Linked DNA regions of Homo sapiens: region 1 is linked to region 2. The links come from fine-mapping of genetic effects on gene expression. Tissue or cell type: nasal epithelium. Region 2 holds a variant in brackets; the other region holds the start of a gene. All regions are shown on one strand. Distances are between the middles of the regions.

What was found. PIP is the estimated chance that this variant, and not a neighbour inherited with it, causes the effect.
Region 1: it holds the start of M1AP, and the variant in region 2 is fine-mapped to the expression of M1AP in nasal epithelium (TOPMed, PIP 0.96).

The regions. Positions count from the first base shown.
Region 1 is chr2:74,644,007-74,652,189 of GRCh38, forward strand. It overlaps M1AP (meiosis 1 associated protein), which reads right to left and starts at 4,324. Exons shown (of 11, transcript NM_001321739.2): 1 at 4,259-4,324.
Region 2 is chr2:74,738,907-74,747,089 of GRCh38, forward strand. All of the region lies in intron 2 of LOC102724497 (a long non-coding RNA gene), which reads left to right. Among named protein-coding and RNA genes, the nearest start is that of SEMA4F, 89 kb to the left of the region's middle. RefSeq lists an enhancer at 1,287-2,486. The variant G/A (reference allele first, on the strand shown) is at 4,116.

The DNA of each region.
Region 1 (8,183 bases), 95 kb before region 2:
AAAAATATTTCAAGAAGAACATTAGGACAATCAAAAGAAAACAAAAGAAATATGATAAAAAAGATAGCTAAAAAATATGTCCCCACCTCTGAGAACTAAAATCATTCTATATAATTGTTTTTAGCTAAAGAATGTAGGGAAAATTAAAGCTTATTTGATTTCCCCTGTGACAATACAAAGATAATTATGATAATTTTCAGAAACACTTTGGAATTTAGAATCTTTAAAAATGATCTAAGAATACATAGATAGGCCGGGCGCAGTGGCTCACGCCTGTAATCCGAGCACTTTGAGAGGCTGAGGCGGGTGGATCTCAAGGTCAGGAGTTTGAGACCAGCCTGACCAACATGGTAAAACCCCATCTCTACTAAAAATACAAAAATTAGCCGGGCGTGGTAGCACGCGCTTGTAATCCCAGCTACTCAGGAGACTGAGGCAGGAGAATCGCTGGAACCCAGGAGGCGGAGGTTGCAGTGAGCCAAGATCGCGCCATTGCACTCCAGCCTGGGTGACAGCGCGAGACCCCGTCTCAAAAAAAAAAAAAAAAATACATAGATAGATGTATTTCCCCAAATGAATCAGTGAAGTTATTCTCTTCAAACTTCCCTTTTTGGATAGTGGAAGTCAGCATTTGTTCATTCAACATTTTTAAAAATTGAGTTCCAATTACGTGCTGGATACAGCTAGAAAAATAAATGAATTAATATGCTAATCTGTTGAAAGTCATCTTGAACCAGAAACCCAAATCAATTACTAATGTATTTACCAAGAAAGCACATAACATATTTTTAAACTGTACTTTAAGTACATGGGGCCAATTTCTACATGGAATGCTGAACTTGAAGCTGACACAGAGAAATTCACACAAACAGGTAGTCAGAGGCCTTATTTAATGTATAATTAAATTTAATTATCCATCTCCATCTCTCACATCTGAAAACGCCATTTTAAAGTAGAGGCAGGACAACCTGCTCAGGTCCCCTTCCACACTGTGGAAGCTTTGTTCTTTCGCTCTTTGCAATAAATCTTGCCGCTGCTCACTTTTTGGGTCCGCACTGCCTTTATGAGCTGTAATACTCACCGTGAAGGTCTGCAGCTTCGCTCCTGAGGCCAGGGAGACCACAAACCCACCGGGAGGAATGAAAAACTCCACACACGCCGCCTTAAGAGCTGTAACACTCACTGCAAAGGTCTGCAGCTTCACTCCTGAAGCCAGCGAGACCATGAATCCACCAGAAGGAAGAAACTCCAGACACATCCGAACATCAGAAGGAACAAACTCCGGACACACCATCTTTAAGAACTGTAACACCGCCAGGGTCCGCGGCTTCATTCTTGAAGTCAGCAAGACCAAGAACCCACCAATTCTGGACACAGTATTGCTGGGCCATAAGGCACGTATGAGTTTAGTTTTGATAGTGAGGTAGGAGGCGGGACTCAACTCTGCAGGAAGGGCTTGGACACCAGACCAAATTGAGGACTAGCTTAAACAGGGCGAGGGTGGAAGCAGCTTTCCATAAGACATGCCCACCAGTGTGCCCTGTCAGTTTACCATTGCCATGGCAACACTCAGAAGTTACCATCCCTTTCTATAGCAACGACTCTATGACCTGGAAGTTACCATGCTTTTCCTAGAAATTTCTGCATCAACTCCCCCTTAATTTGCATGTAATTAAAACTGGGTATAACTATGACTGCTGAACTACCTCTGAGCTGCTATTCTGGGCACACTGCCTATGGGGTAGCCCTGCTCCACAGTTGCAGTACCTCTGCTGCTGCTGTACACTGCTGCTTTAATAAAAGTTGCTGTTTAACATCACCAGCTCACCCTTGAAAAAAATAAAAATAAAAAAATAAAGTAGAGGCAGTCCTCATTTTGCATGGTTCAAGTATATAGATTTCAGTTACTACAGTTTAGTTAATTAACACTAGTCTTCCAACAACACAGTTCAAATTTCAGTTACCATGGAATATTAACTGTAATTACATAAAGTAGTATCTAGCTCTTTAGTTCACGAATTACTAGTTATCAGTATCAATAGTATAGTATACTGATATAGCGTACTGATATAATATAGTGATCAGTGCATCATGATCAGTAATTAATTATATCACTTCTTTCAAAGTCTGTTGGTGACCCGTCACTGCAGATCCATTAGTCAGTTAAAGCACAGACAGAAGTGTGTAGTTGTGTCGCCTCCTTGTCTCCTAGTGATAAGCCCATGTGATGTTTTATAAAAACAAAAACTGAAAGAGGAAACTAGCCGATAAAAGGAGCAGCAAAGAAATAAAAAATGATAATGCCAGGAGTGAAATCTGAATCTAACATAAGTGGAGTTAAAGGAGAAACAGCTGACTATGAGAGTGTTGACACTGCCTCCACCTGATAGACTCTAGAGAAGCAGCCAGAGGAATTTAGTGAAGGCAAACTTATCAACATACTTGAGGAAAGTCATTGTGATGAAAAGGATGAAGACATCCTACAGAAAGGGCCACTGGCAAAAAGCTTCATTATTAAAGAAACTTTCAGAGATATTTTACAAAATTGAAGGTACAAAGGATAAAATGTAGGAAACTAACCCAAACTTAGAAAGAAGTATGTCAGTTTGCCAAGACACACAAAAAATGTTTGCTCTCTCATAAGTTTTACTATGAGAGTTTTTTTTCAACAAATAAAACACTTTAGCTCTCAATGTTTCTAATGTTTTAAGTTAGTGTATGAAATAGTTTTACTGTTTTACATTTCCCTATACAGTTAGTAAGAAAGTTTTAGTGTTTTGACAATTTTTCAAGGTTATAGAACAACTGTAATTTTTCCCATTGGTGTTTAAGATCTCTTTGAATGGTTTCAGCTTGCAGTCATTTTTCAATCCCACACTAATGTGCAATTGGAAGACTGTATTTTAAATGAGGTAAGAGGCAGCTCTCTTCCTTACATCCTCAAACATCATCAATTCATGCATCTGATGTGTCTGGGCATAGTACTAAACAGGCTCTGACCTTATTCTGACCCTATACTCTCCACTTTTGCCAAGAACACTCGCTTAATGAATTCTCCCTGCAAACTGGTTAAAACTGGAACTGGGCCTTGAACCACTCCAAACCACCAAGTTATGCCCAAACTAAAAACCCTCCAAGGACTTCCAATTACACCACTGGAAACAGAATCCAATATCTTTACCCTGGCCCTAAAGTTCTGCTTGTGCCTTCTGCCCAACTCTCCATCCTCACACTAGGCCCTCCCCTGCCCGCACCCCGGGAGATCCACCTCTCACAGATCGGCTTCTCGCTGTGTCTGCCTCTGCGGATGTTCTGTTCCGTGCTGAGCATTCTAGGTTAGGGCCCCTTTACAAGCCCTCATTCACTTTGTCGCGTGATAAACGATTCAATGGTTCTCCCTCTGGCAGGGCCCTATTAAAGATTTCGTGGGCCCTAAGGCACTTTCGTCTTCGTGGACCCCTTCCTCCATTAAAAAAAGATTAAAAGAAGTTAATGGATTTTGTAGGCCCTAAAAATCTCATTTCCCCCTCCTGATGTGAGAAAAAAATCAAAACACTTTCTTTGACTTCATGGGTTCACTTTAAACGAAATGAAAACATTCTCGTGGCCGGGCACGGTGGCTCACGCCTGTAATCGCAGCACTTTAGGAGGCCGAGGCGGGCGGATCACGAGGTCAGGAGTTCGAGAGCAGCCTGGCCAACATAGGGAAACCATGTCTCTACTAAAAATATAAAAAAATTAGCCAGGCGTGGTGGCGGGAGCCTGTAATTCCAGCTTACTCGAGAAGCTGAGGCGGAGAATCACTTGAACCCGGGAGGCGGAGGTTGCAGTGAGCCGAGATCACGCCATTGCACTCCAGCTTGGGCAACAAGGGTGAAACTCCGTCTCAAAAACAAAGCAAAACCAGAAGAAAAAAAATTCTCGTGGCTCCCTGAAGCCTCCGTGGTCCCTCGGCATGGCGCCTACCGTGCCTGGCGGATCAGCAGCCCGGCCCTCGGGCCTGGGGGCCCCGCGGAGGAAGCTCCGGGCCCAGACTCCGCGCAGGCCTGGCCGCCCAGAACAGTATGCGGAGGGATGACTCCGACAGCGATTTCGGAGCCTCTCTCGGCGTCAGTCTTGCGCCGGCACCCGCCACGGCCAGCGCAACCAACACCTGCCTGAGGACTGGCCCGAGCTCGGCCCACGCCCAGCCCAGCCTGCGAAGTGGTGCCGGCTGCTCTCGGGCTGCCCTCCCTCCCCGAGGCGTGGAGAACCGTACCTGTCTTCGGAAGACGGAGGCCCCCTCACCTGGTCCTCCCGGCTCTCAGCGTGCGCCCGCGCGTTCGGAGGCGCCCCCCTCAGGCCGGCGCGGCTGGGCGGGAGGCTCACTGCGGGCAAGGCGGGGCCTGGCTGCCTCAGGGTGCGCTTCAGGTGGCGCTTCAGGAAAACGGTCTCCAAGTCCCTAGATACCCTGAGAACAGTCCTTCTTTGTCCCTTAGGTAGAATTTTGTCTATTTGTTGGAAATGCTGTGCTAAACCTGACATTTTTCTTTTTCTACCCCTTCCCATGAAACATGCCAGTAGCTCCCCCACCGACCGTTTTCTTGGTTTTAACTTTTCCCTTCCACATCATTTCCTTCAGCCAGTCGCTATTTTGTTCACTAAACATCTGTGGTGGGCACGTTATGTGCCACGCATTGTGCTAGGATTGGAGTACAGTGGATGTACAGACAATGGTCACTGCCCTCATGGAAGTTATAGCTGCCTTCACAAAGTTCTTTTAAGTCTTTTCAAACTCCTGTATTCCAAGAGGGTCTGTCGCTCTCTTCATACTCATTCTCGCTTACTTGAGGTTGATTCCCATAGTCCCTTTGACGAACTCCAGATGGGGTAGGAGCGTCCTGGTCCTTAACAGTTGGTTGGTCTGGGTCTTCAACTCTGGTTAAAAAGGAATTCTCTGAATTAGTCCACAGGAGAGGGAAAGATAATGCTAGTTCCAAGCTAGAAATGTACAAGCAGTTTTCCTTGTTTTCTTTATTATTATTATTGTTATTTTCTCAGTTCATTGTCTAGATGCAGGTTGGAGGTGGGGTGGGGCAATATTTCAATGAGTGGCACAGGATAGGTTAGATGTTTCAACAGGAAAAGAGTTGCCTGCTTGTATTCTAGTCCCACTAAACCATTTTGCTCCTATCAACTGTTCCTCAGGTAAGAACAGAACTATTTAACCTATGTCCTTTTTTAAACACTATAATCTGATATTCAATAGAGTTCCTGTGTTTCAGTTTAAAGGGTAGCTTCTCAACAGCTCTTTCCCCCCATATAGTCCAAATTAGCCTTTCTGTCTCTAATCTCCAGATTATCGTTTCCACTGATGTTAGAATTGTCCTTGTAAAAATATTTTGATCATATCATTCTTTGTCTTAAAAATGGCTTATGTTTCCTTTTCGGTTAGAGGGTCCATTATAACTGACCCCACCTACCTTACTAGGCTCAACCCCAGCATTACCTGTCTTACTCCCCTTTGTGTTGCTATACCAGAATACCACAGAACAACTAACTTGTAAATAAAGGAAATGTATTCTTAAATTCTGGAGGGTAGGAATTCCAAGGTTGAGAATCCCACATCTAGTGAGGGCATTTTTTCTGTGTCATCCCATGGCAGAAGGCAGAAGGGCAAGGGGTACAAAAGAGCAAGACAGCAATAGGGAGCTGAACTCACTTTTACAACAAACCCACTCTCTCAATAACTAACTCATTTCCAAGATAATGACATTAATTCATTTATGGGGGCAGAGCCCTTATGGCCTAATCACCTCTTGTTAGGCCCCACCTCTGAACACTATTCCATTGGGTACTAAGTTTCCAGCAAATGAACTTTGGGGGACGCATTCAAACTTGAGCACTAGCCTCACTCCAAACCATACCACCCATTGCTCCTACCTACTATTAATTTCTTTCCGTACCCTCTATAGCATTTATTAAAAATATGCAAAGAACTGTACCAGAAATGGGGACTATGACATAAGAATTGTTTTCTGAGGGTGATAAACTATAATGGTCATGAGAAAGCACCTTGCAGACTTTAAACTACAAGGAGTGTAACTGACCAAGGGCATCAGCTGCTGCCTTAGAAATCTACTGCCACGACTGGGCTCCGTGGTTCACGCCTGTAATCCCAGCACTTTGGGAGGCCGAGGCGGGTGGATCACCTGAGGTCAGGAGTTCGAGACCAGCCTGACCAACATGGAGAAACCCCATCTCTACTAAAAATCCAAAATTAGCCGGGCATGGTGGTGCATGCCTGTAATCCCAGCTACTCGGAAGGCTGAGGCAGGAGAAACACTTGAACCCGGGAGGCAGAGGTTGCGGTGAGCCAAGATTGCACCACTGCATTCCAGCCTGGGCAACAAGAGCAAAAACTCTGTCTCAAAAAAAAAAAAAGAAAGAAAAAAGAAATCTGCCACATTTGCATGGAGGCCATCTTCCCAGCCACTGACTGAATGTGGTGGAGATACTAAGGCAGACCCATTCCTGGGAAACACTGCACTTCTCACACAGCACTCCTCACACAGCACTCCTCTAATGGGCAACATTGGCTTGATGATTCCCCAACAGTCTTGCTGAACTATACTCCAGTATGGAGTATAGTATGTGGAAGAGGAGTGTCAAAGATGAAGCAGGAGAGATAGGCAAAGGGCCAGAACATATACGATCTGTGGACTATATTAAAGATTTCGGATCTTATCTCATAGCAAAGGCGGGGTGGGCTGGAATGGGGAGATAAACTGAAGTGTTTAAGCAGAAGAGTGACATGATCTGATTTGTGTACTGGAGAGAACATTCTCCCTGCCTCCCTGCCTTAAAAGGAATGGATTGGGGGCTGAAATTGGGGTGGTGGCAGCAGGGCATAGGGACAAGACAAGAGTAGGAAGGAGCCCAGGCAAGAGAAGATAGTTGTTTGAATTAGGGTATTGGCAGAGGGGATGCGGAGATGTGGGAGGAAGTATTTAGGAGTTAAAATTAACAGGCCTTTATGATTGATTTGATTAAGAGGAATCCAAAATGACAGGGCCTAGAACATAGTAGGCATTCAATGAATACTTATTGAATAAACAAATGCAAAGTCTCTGGCTTAGACAGCTGGAAAGACAGTAGTGCTATGGGGAACATTGGTTTTAGCATCCACACAATTACCAGGATGCTATGAGGGTGGGGACGATAGTTCAGTTTTGGACATATTGAAATCAAGGTGCCTGTGGTTACACTGTGTGGAAATGTCCACTAGGCACTTGGATGTGTGTGTCAGAAGCTGAAGAGAAAGATATGGCCTAGAAATGTAGATTTAGAAAATCATTATTAACTAAATTAGTATGAATGAGACTACATAGAACAGTGATTTTTTTTTTCAAAGTGGGGATCTCAACTCATTAATGAATAGTAAAATCAATTTAGTGGGCTGCAACCAGCATTTAAAAAAATGGAATAGAATAAAATGCAACATGATAGGGAAAAAAATGAGAATTTAGCTCCTGAAGTAAAGATAAATATAATGTAAGTATGACTTTGTTAAAAATTTAACTCACTAATATGTACATTGGGTACATGAATGCATGTACTTAAGTGCAATTAGGTTGCACAATAAGAACCTCTTATTGTATGTTTTGTGAAAAAAATTGAAAAAATATTAAAAAAATCAAAAGACAACCAATAAGTCATGTTCAGAGAAGGGACTAAGGCCTAGACTAGACTGCTGAGAAGCAGCTTAGGAAAGGCATATAGTGGGCTAGAGGAAGAAACTCAGACGGGGGGCAGGGGTTCCATTGTGTTGAGGTTGGTTTTAGAAAGAAGATTTCAGAGAGAAGATTAGAAGTACTGATCCCAAATGCCTGATTTTCCCTCTAGGCTAAGCAATTTGAATTCAAGGACAATGGCTTTTTTTTTTTGGCAGGCTAGAGTGCAATGGTGTGATCGTAGCTCCCTGCAGCCTTGAACTCCTGGGCTCAAGTGATCCTCCTGCTTCAGTCTCCCAAGTAGCTGAGACTACAGGTGTGTGCCACCAGGCCTTGCTATTATTATTATTTTGCAGAGACAGGGTCTTGCTATGTTGACGTGGCTGGTCTCGAACTCGTCTTCAAGTGATCCTCCTGCCTCAGCCTCCCAAAGTGCTAGGATTACAGGCATGAGCCACCATGCCCAGCCAA
Region 2 (8,183 bases):
GAGACTCCATCTCAAATGTCATATAATTCAATTTTTATAAAATTCTCGAAAATGTAAGCTAACCCTATAGTGACCAAAAGATCAGTGATTGCCTGGGAATGGAAACTGGGACAGAGAATGGCAATGAATGGCACAAGGAAACTTCTGGGGAATGGCTGTGTTTTTAAATCTTGATTTTGGTGATCATTTCATGAGTGCATGCATATGTCAAAAATTTCCAAATTGCACATCTTAATCATGAGCACTTTACTGAATATCAATTATACCTCAATAAAGCTGTTAAAAAACAACAACAAAAAAGAAGGTGTTGAGTCTGATAGGGTTGAGGCCAACTGCTACAGTACATTTGTGCAATGACAGGATTTTTGCACTGAGACACTTCCAAATGTCAGTATCTGTAGGATCTGTATGGCTTTCTTCCAGTATGATTCAATTTTCCAGATTAAGATTCTCTAGTCTCTTTGCTGGAGGATATGAACCTGATTGCCAGCATTCTTGGAAATAAGCAGGGGAAGGGTGAGGGGGTCTAACCATTCAGTGTGCAGGCTTTTACTTTCTTCTCTATTTTCAAGCCATCCCCTCACCCTCCCTTCCCCTCTTCCTGCTGTCCCCAGTCCAGTGCTTCTCTCACTACTGTTAATATTTATAGCTTCCCTTCCCCTAGAATACAGGCTTTAAACATGTTTCAATAGGACAATTATAAAAATAAAAGATTTGTTTGCAATCATTTATCTAGATGAACCCTTGGATGACAGAATCATTTGGTTATTAAGTGAAACCAGGACAGACATTTGGGGAAGGGGATGGCATTTTAACCTTTTGTGGAGCCATTCCCCATCAGACAATCCTTTGCTGCCACTGCCAGAGATAACACCAGGTAGGATGTGGCAATCCAGATCTTTTCATCTGGATGTCAGCAACAGCAAGGCAGGGGCCTGGACAGGATTCAGGTCACACAGTGTCTAGCTGGCTGGTGGAGCTTTGAGGTCTTTATAGAGAAGCTCTGCACTGAGATTATCATGAAGCCTGTGAGTGTTGGGGGTCAGCCTGAAGGCAGCATTCTCTGAGTGCTTCCAGCGGGAACTCCCTGTCGTTCGTGAAGGCAGCCGTGCTTCTAACACTGGAGTAGCAGCTACCACTTGTGAGCACTTACTGCATGCCAGGCACTGTGACAGGCACCTCTGACAAATTATTTCAATGATTTCACAACAGCACTACTGTTTTTATCCCCATTTCACAGATGAGGTGACTGAGACTCAAATAGATGCTCAAAGTCACTGAGCTAGGAAGTGTCAGACACAACCACATCCATGTGGACAGACTCCAGAGCTGGAGATTCGACCTGAATCCAAATACTGTTCTCCCCAGAACTCCAGTTGTGAGACTTTTAAGTGGAGCTTGGAGATTAAGGAACAACCCTTTTGGGGTCATTCTTGCTAGGGCTGTATGAAGACAGCAGGTGCACGCAGGCTACTGTGAAGTGCGGAACCACTTGGCTGGCAGCCTGGAATATAGAGGGGCAATCTTCTCAATGGGTTGTCAGGGCTACCACATTTTGGACTTGCTGCCAGGAGACCCAGGTTCAAGTCCCCACTCTGCTGCTATCTCACATTGTGACCTTGAGTGGTCACTAATCTCTCACTAGATACTGGGCCTCGGTAGCCTCGTCTGTTAAAGGGGATGACTCAACTTGGGTAAGTCTAAAGTTTTCTCAGCTTTAAAACGCAGGGATTCCATGTGTCACCTCTCCCAGGAATATTTGTATCTGTGGAATGAAAGACCTTTTGCTGCTGTCTCAGAGAAGTATTTATGCAGGTCAGGGGTCCTTTCCCAATGCGTTGGACTCATCCATCTGGAGGAGCTCTTCTACCGAAGGGCACTACCTTCTCACCAGGCTGTGGCAGCAGAGGGGTTAAACAGCATGCCCTGCCCTGCTCCAGGCAGAAGGGTTGTAGGACTTAATCACGTTTCAGCTTGGCTGTCGGGCTGTGAGTCACGGTTGCACTGCGATTATGTAAGCACGCAGGAATAGGTGGCATGACATATATGCTGCCAGCAGCCACGGGCCTCGCCCTTCCGAGTCACCACTACTTTTTAAGCCTTTTTTTGGATACAAGTTTCTTTGGGTTCATCTTTGGAATGGAAATGGAAGCATGATTGCAGAATAGGCAGAACAGGAATTATCCATCAATCAGAGAGAACCCAGCCCTTTAAGAGAAGCTGGAATTAGAATATGGAATTCCTGAGCCTTGAGCTGGCATAGCCGAGCCCTGGTTTATGCTCTTCCTGCCTCCCTCCTTTTTTCCCTCCTGCCTGTGTGCTCCACTTCCTCTCCTGAGACTCCCCCAAGGTAGCATCACTCCCACCAGGAGCCTCAGGCAGGAAAAATAAGGCCCAGAGAAGGGACTGTCCCTGGGGACGTGCACTGAGTGTGTGTGAGGGTGCGGGGCAGGAATAGGAGTGCCAGGAGTCTACCTCTGGAGCAATGCCTCCCACAGTATTTCTGTAGGGGAAAGGATAGAAACTCACTTCTTGGGTTCCTCCAATCACCATGCACATGTCAGTCCTTCAGCTATAAATGCAAAGGAAAGCCAGAACTGAGATTTGAGCTTTCTCACCATCTCCATGGTCAGATATCTCCACTGCCAAAGGGTTCATTCCGCCTCTGGGTTTATCTCTTTCTTCATGCTTCTTCCTGGCAGTGTCCTGTTGAAGCTTACCTTCCCATCTGTGTTTGCATCCACTCCCTAAAAACCACAAGACAAAACAAGAAAATAAAAGCCTCCTCCCCTCACTTAATCCACGGTTCTTTTTTCTTCCTGCTTACAAATTTCTTGAACTTGTATGTCTGTCCTTGCTGCTTCCACTTCTTCATCTCTCATTTGTGTCTGATGCAATAGGGCAATGAAGTGTCCTTGTGGTCCCTGGTGACCTTCTCATCGCTCAATCCCAAGGCCTTTTTTTAGTCTTCATCCAATTTAACCTCTTGGCAACATGTGACATGCTGCCAGCCAGCTGCTCCCTCTTTCTAATGCTCTCTCCTCTTGGCTTCTGTGACCCATCTCTTTACTACTCTGTCTGTTTCTCCAATGCCCTCTTCCTGGTCTCTCTTGACATCTTCTCTTCCCTGATCTGCATGCCACCTATATGGTGTACGTCCTCATGTATTTATAAGTAAGTAGGTGTTTATTTCTTGTCTCCTTCCCAAGAGGATTTAAATAGGTGGCACAAATATACACTACACTAGGGTAATAAAATAGGGAGTAAGATGCAACTGGTGGAGAATTAAGATCAAATTGGCCGGGCGCGGTGGCTCACAGCTTTAATCCCAGCACTTTGGGAGGCTTAGGCGGGAGGATCACTTGAGGTCAGGTTTGGCCAACATGGCAAAACCCCGTCTCTACTAAAAATACAAAAATTATCTGGGTGTGGTGGCGCATGCCTGTAGTCCTAGCTTCTCAGGAGGCTGAGGCAGGAGAATCGCTTGAACCTGGGAAGCAGAGGTTGCAGTGACCTGAGGTCACACTACTGCACTCCAGCCTGGATGACACAGTGAGACTCCATCTCAAAAAAAAAAAAAAAAGAGTAAGTTGTAGCCATAATAAATGAAGAAGATAAAACATTATTCCAAAAGACACTATAAAATCATTAGTCCACCCAACCAATCTGATCCTGTGACTCTCCTACCAAAAAGATTCCAATGATGCATGATTGTCCAACTCCCTATATAGCCTTTCACAGTCTAATCCCAGTGGGCTTTTCCAGGTCATTTCCTGTTTTTGAGCTTTGCTACAAGCTGATCCCTCTTCTTAAAGTGCCCCCCTGTCCACTTTCCTCTTCTTGGTGCTGCCTACTTGACAAATAGCTACTTGGTTTTTAAGACAGCTTCAACGTCACCACTTCTGTGAAGATTTCCCCTGCAAAATGTATCACTCCTTTATGGTAGCAAATAACTAAACTTCTGTAAACCTCAGTTTCTGCATCTGGGCAATGGGAATTATAATAGAACCCTAATTCATTGTGAGGATTAAATTAGACACACATGCAAAGTGCTTAATATAGCACCTGGGATGTTGCAAGCATTTACTAAATGTCAGCTAGTATTATACCTCCTT[G/A]TAAATGGAGGGAACAATAGTCCATAAGACTAAGATATGTTCCCAAGTTAATTAGGATCCAATGGTACAGTTAGCCTAGGGCGCAGGCTACTCTGTCCCTGCCATATATTCTCTCAAAAGTTCTTCTTCCTCAGTTCCTGGCTGTCCCCTTCTGGAAAATCCTTTCTAATTCCAAAGTTGATCCCCTCAAGTATAAACACTACTAGCTTGTTTAACTTTATTGGCACACATGTGAGCACAGGTGCGGTTCTTGACCGGCTTCAGCTCTAATCCTGTTGCCTCGGTCTTGCTGAGATCATTGTCTCTCTAACTCACTACTAAAAGTCTGGTCTCAACCTGTACCAGGATTGCCAAATAGATTCAGAAGTCAAGGAGAAGGCATCCCATGCCCGTAGCCAGCTGAGTAGAGGGGCTGCCAGCCCCAGCCAAGGCGTTTGCTGACCCTCAGCTCCAGGAAGGCCTGGGTGACCTTAAGTCTGGCACACGGGGCAATGAACTGTGGTAGCTGCCAGGGGTGGGTTCCTGAGGGCCACCTTCTCAGCAGCCTTCTGCCTACCCCACCTGGCAGGACATGGATGTGCGTGCAGGCCTGTGTATGTCTCTCTGTGTGCAACTCTCCTCTTTGGTGGATTCAGGGTCCTTGTGTCATTTTTCAAGGTGTCAGTCAAGAAGCATCCTTAGACTGGAGTCAGAGCCTCATGTCTTCAACCAGTAGCTGGGGAAAGCTCATAATAATTATACCAATACTAAGGCATGGCTGGTATTATCCAAAATGAGAAAAGAAGAGAGTAGGCTGAAGAGGCCAAATAGCTCCCACAAAGTCACACAGCTTGTTAGTGGTGCAGACGACAGCCCAGCTCTCCTGACCCTGGGCGTGGGTTTTTGCGTTCATGTCTCATGCCCCTGTCAGGAAAGAAAAACACACGAGGGTCCTTGGATGACCATATATGGCACCCTACAAATGAAAGCTACTGTGTTATTATCTTGCACTCGCAGTAAGTGCCTCATAAGAACATGCTTGGGATGACATACATGGATCTGCCTCAAGGAGGGAAATCTCAGACCCTGGAAAGCAGGCATTGCACATGAAAATGAAGAATGGGCTGAGTGAGCACATGGCAGCGCCGTGTTGGGTTCCAGCTCTGAGATCTCATGCAGGACTCTCTCAGCTTCTCTAGCTGTAACACGAGAGTTTGGCAGAGATCACATTAAAGTTCCCCTTAATAAGGGGTTTTCATGTGGTGTCAAATTGTTCCTCTGAAATAAGTATTAAAAAAAATTATAGTGAGCACATGGCATCTTGACTTTGTGTGGAGCTGACAAAACACTTCCCATTGTATGTTCACATGCCAAAGCATGTTTCATTTTATCTTATTTTATGTAGCACATTCTTTTTCATCCTCCATGGTAACTGAGTACTTGATTGTCCGTGGCATTTTCCCTCTGAAGTACTCCAGGTAGAACACCCATCATGTTCATGGCTGACATTTTACCACCCAAGGACCTCGAGGAGAGGACCAAGTGGGGTGGTCTCCATCATGGGACAGATAAGGACAAACCTGGAGAGAAGTGTGTGAGGCCGCAGGCACTAAAAGCTCCAGGGGTGGCAGTCAGAGAGGGCCACTGGGAGAGGTGGCACAAACTGGCTGCATGCACCTGCGTCTGGTCTGGCCCACACAGTGTTTAGAAGAAATTGAGTTGCTAAAGTTGGAAATCAGGATATTTCACATTAAAAATCAGGGTTTGGGGCTTCTGCTGAAAAATGGGCACCTTTGGCCAGTTACCTCTGTGCAGAGGGTACATACTGCCCAGTCCAGCCAGAGCCCATTCCACCTGCTCTCCTCAACACAGTCAACAGCATTTGTGGCAACTTCTCTGACTACCCAGCCTCGTGGGGGCTAAGTCGTGCTCAAGAAACTTATCAGGAATTACATTTCTCAAATGTGATGCTGCAATCTGATCCAGTTTTATTTGTGCCACAAATGGATTGCCAAAGGATGTGAGGTTTTTGCACACTTAGGTGGATCTTGTTTTCCAGATGAGGCTATGAAAGCAGAGCTTCTATGCTGGGATCACTTGTTTCATGCTAGGCACTGACTGTTCTAAGTGTTTTAACTGCCACATCACCTCATGCACGAGGGAGCTACTAATATCCCCATTTCATGCATAGAGAGACTGAAGTACAGAAAGGTAAAGCAGCTTGCTCTATGTCACACAGCCAAGAAATGGTCATACTGGGATGGGAAACTGGTAGTCAGGCTCCAGGGAACTCCAATACATGCTGCTATACCAACCATCTGGACACATAAGAGCTAGTCTGTGTTCTCATTTGTGAAGGGACTGCCAGGAATCCCTGCCTGACAGGGAGCAAGGGAGAGAATGCACATGAAAGCACTTGGTAAGTTGCAATGTGCACCATAAATGTTAGCTGTTACTGATAATTATTATAACCTGCAGGTCAGGATTCTAGCTGGGGGCCTGTGGCCGAGGCTACCCAGCTTGTCATTCTCTCTCCAGCTACAGCTCGGGCTGCAAGAAGGGGAAAGGGTGTTATTAGCACCGATTCTTGGAATTCCAACGTGGTATGAATAAGGAATCAATTACAGGCTACACTGCAGGGTGGCCGCTGAGGTGTAGGGGCTGGTTTTCAACAGCACAAAGACAAGTTTATTCCAATACCACTTCCTCCACCACAGAGTTAAGCCCACCCATGGTCCCTGCTCCGTGCTGGGAGGTCTAGGCTTGCCCACTGCCGGGGAGAACAGGTGGATTCACACGCCCTCTCCCTGAGCCGTTCCCAGGGCATCCACGGACAGGTGTGCATTTTATGGACGGCACACAGGTGCTGACCAAGTAAGAAAGTGGGCGCTGGGATCTAGTGCAGGCTCTGTTCTCAAGTTATGTGCCCTGGTGTGGGCTGCACCTGCAGGAGGAAGTGGTGCCTTTCTGTTTGAACAAAGGTGTGCCTGTGTGCCTCTGGGGTGTGTACTCAACTGGTCTGCCCAAAGGAGGCACCATTTTTTGTTCATGCAAAGGCTCCACCTGGGCTAGTGGAGGCCGTGGTTGTGCACCTGAAGGAGGCAGACAACAGACTTCTTGCTGCTCAGGAACCCACCCTTACACCCAGCTCCTGATTCCTCATCGAGGCCTATGCTCTCCTCCTCTGCAGGCTCACAGTTCTGTCCAGTCCATATTCTGCCATGACTTTGTGTCATTCATTTCCCCCACCCCCCTACAACCTCTTCTGATCCATGACAAGGTGGCCTAGGGCCAACTCCAAGATCCAAGGCCTGAACCCCATTTGCTGTCCCTTTGGCCTCTGTCCTGGGTTCCTTTCCTGGTAATCTCCTAATACCCCCACCTCACTGCCTGTATCTACTAGTTCCCCAGCCACAGGCCAGAGAATTCTCCTAAATCCTGGAGCAAAACTGCAGATTCCTGGCTATAGATAACCTGCCTGACCAGACTTCCAAGTGCCACTATGATAATATTGCCTGATGCTGCACTCCACCCACCTGTGAGTCTAACCAGCCTGGTCCCCCACTGTTCACTGTTTGCTTCCACCAGAGCTGGGGATTGCCTGTGACTGTGACATCAGCCTGTCCTGCCTGGCTGAGTGTCTGGGATTAGGTTGGGCCAGCAGGTCACTTTCCTCAGGACCATCACACCCTAAGGGTGAAATTGGGCTTGCTTCAGACCTTCCTATCTTGTGACTGGACTGTCTTGTGATTGAATAAACTGTCGTGCTCAGACAAGTCCAGAGGGATGACACAGTGGAATGTTGTTCGTTACCTGGGTCTGTCTGAATATTCCCAGAACACAGAAGGTGCTCAATACATAGATTCTGAACCTTGTTGGCTGTCGCTGCTGCAGCCATTTTTACCTGAAAGGTGATTTAGAATTTCTGCAGGTGAATGTGGTGGTGGTTGCAGGGAGTTAAAAAATTCTCCCTCTTCCTACTGAGATGCACACATGCCCCCTTAGAGGTGTACCCTCTTGGAATCACTGCAGAGAGTTTCTTTGTTGACATTCACTCAGAAGTGACAAGCACATGTCTAGAGGAAGGGA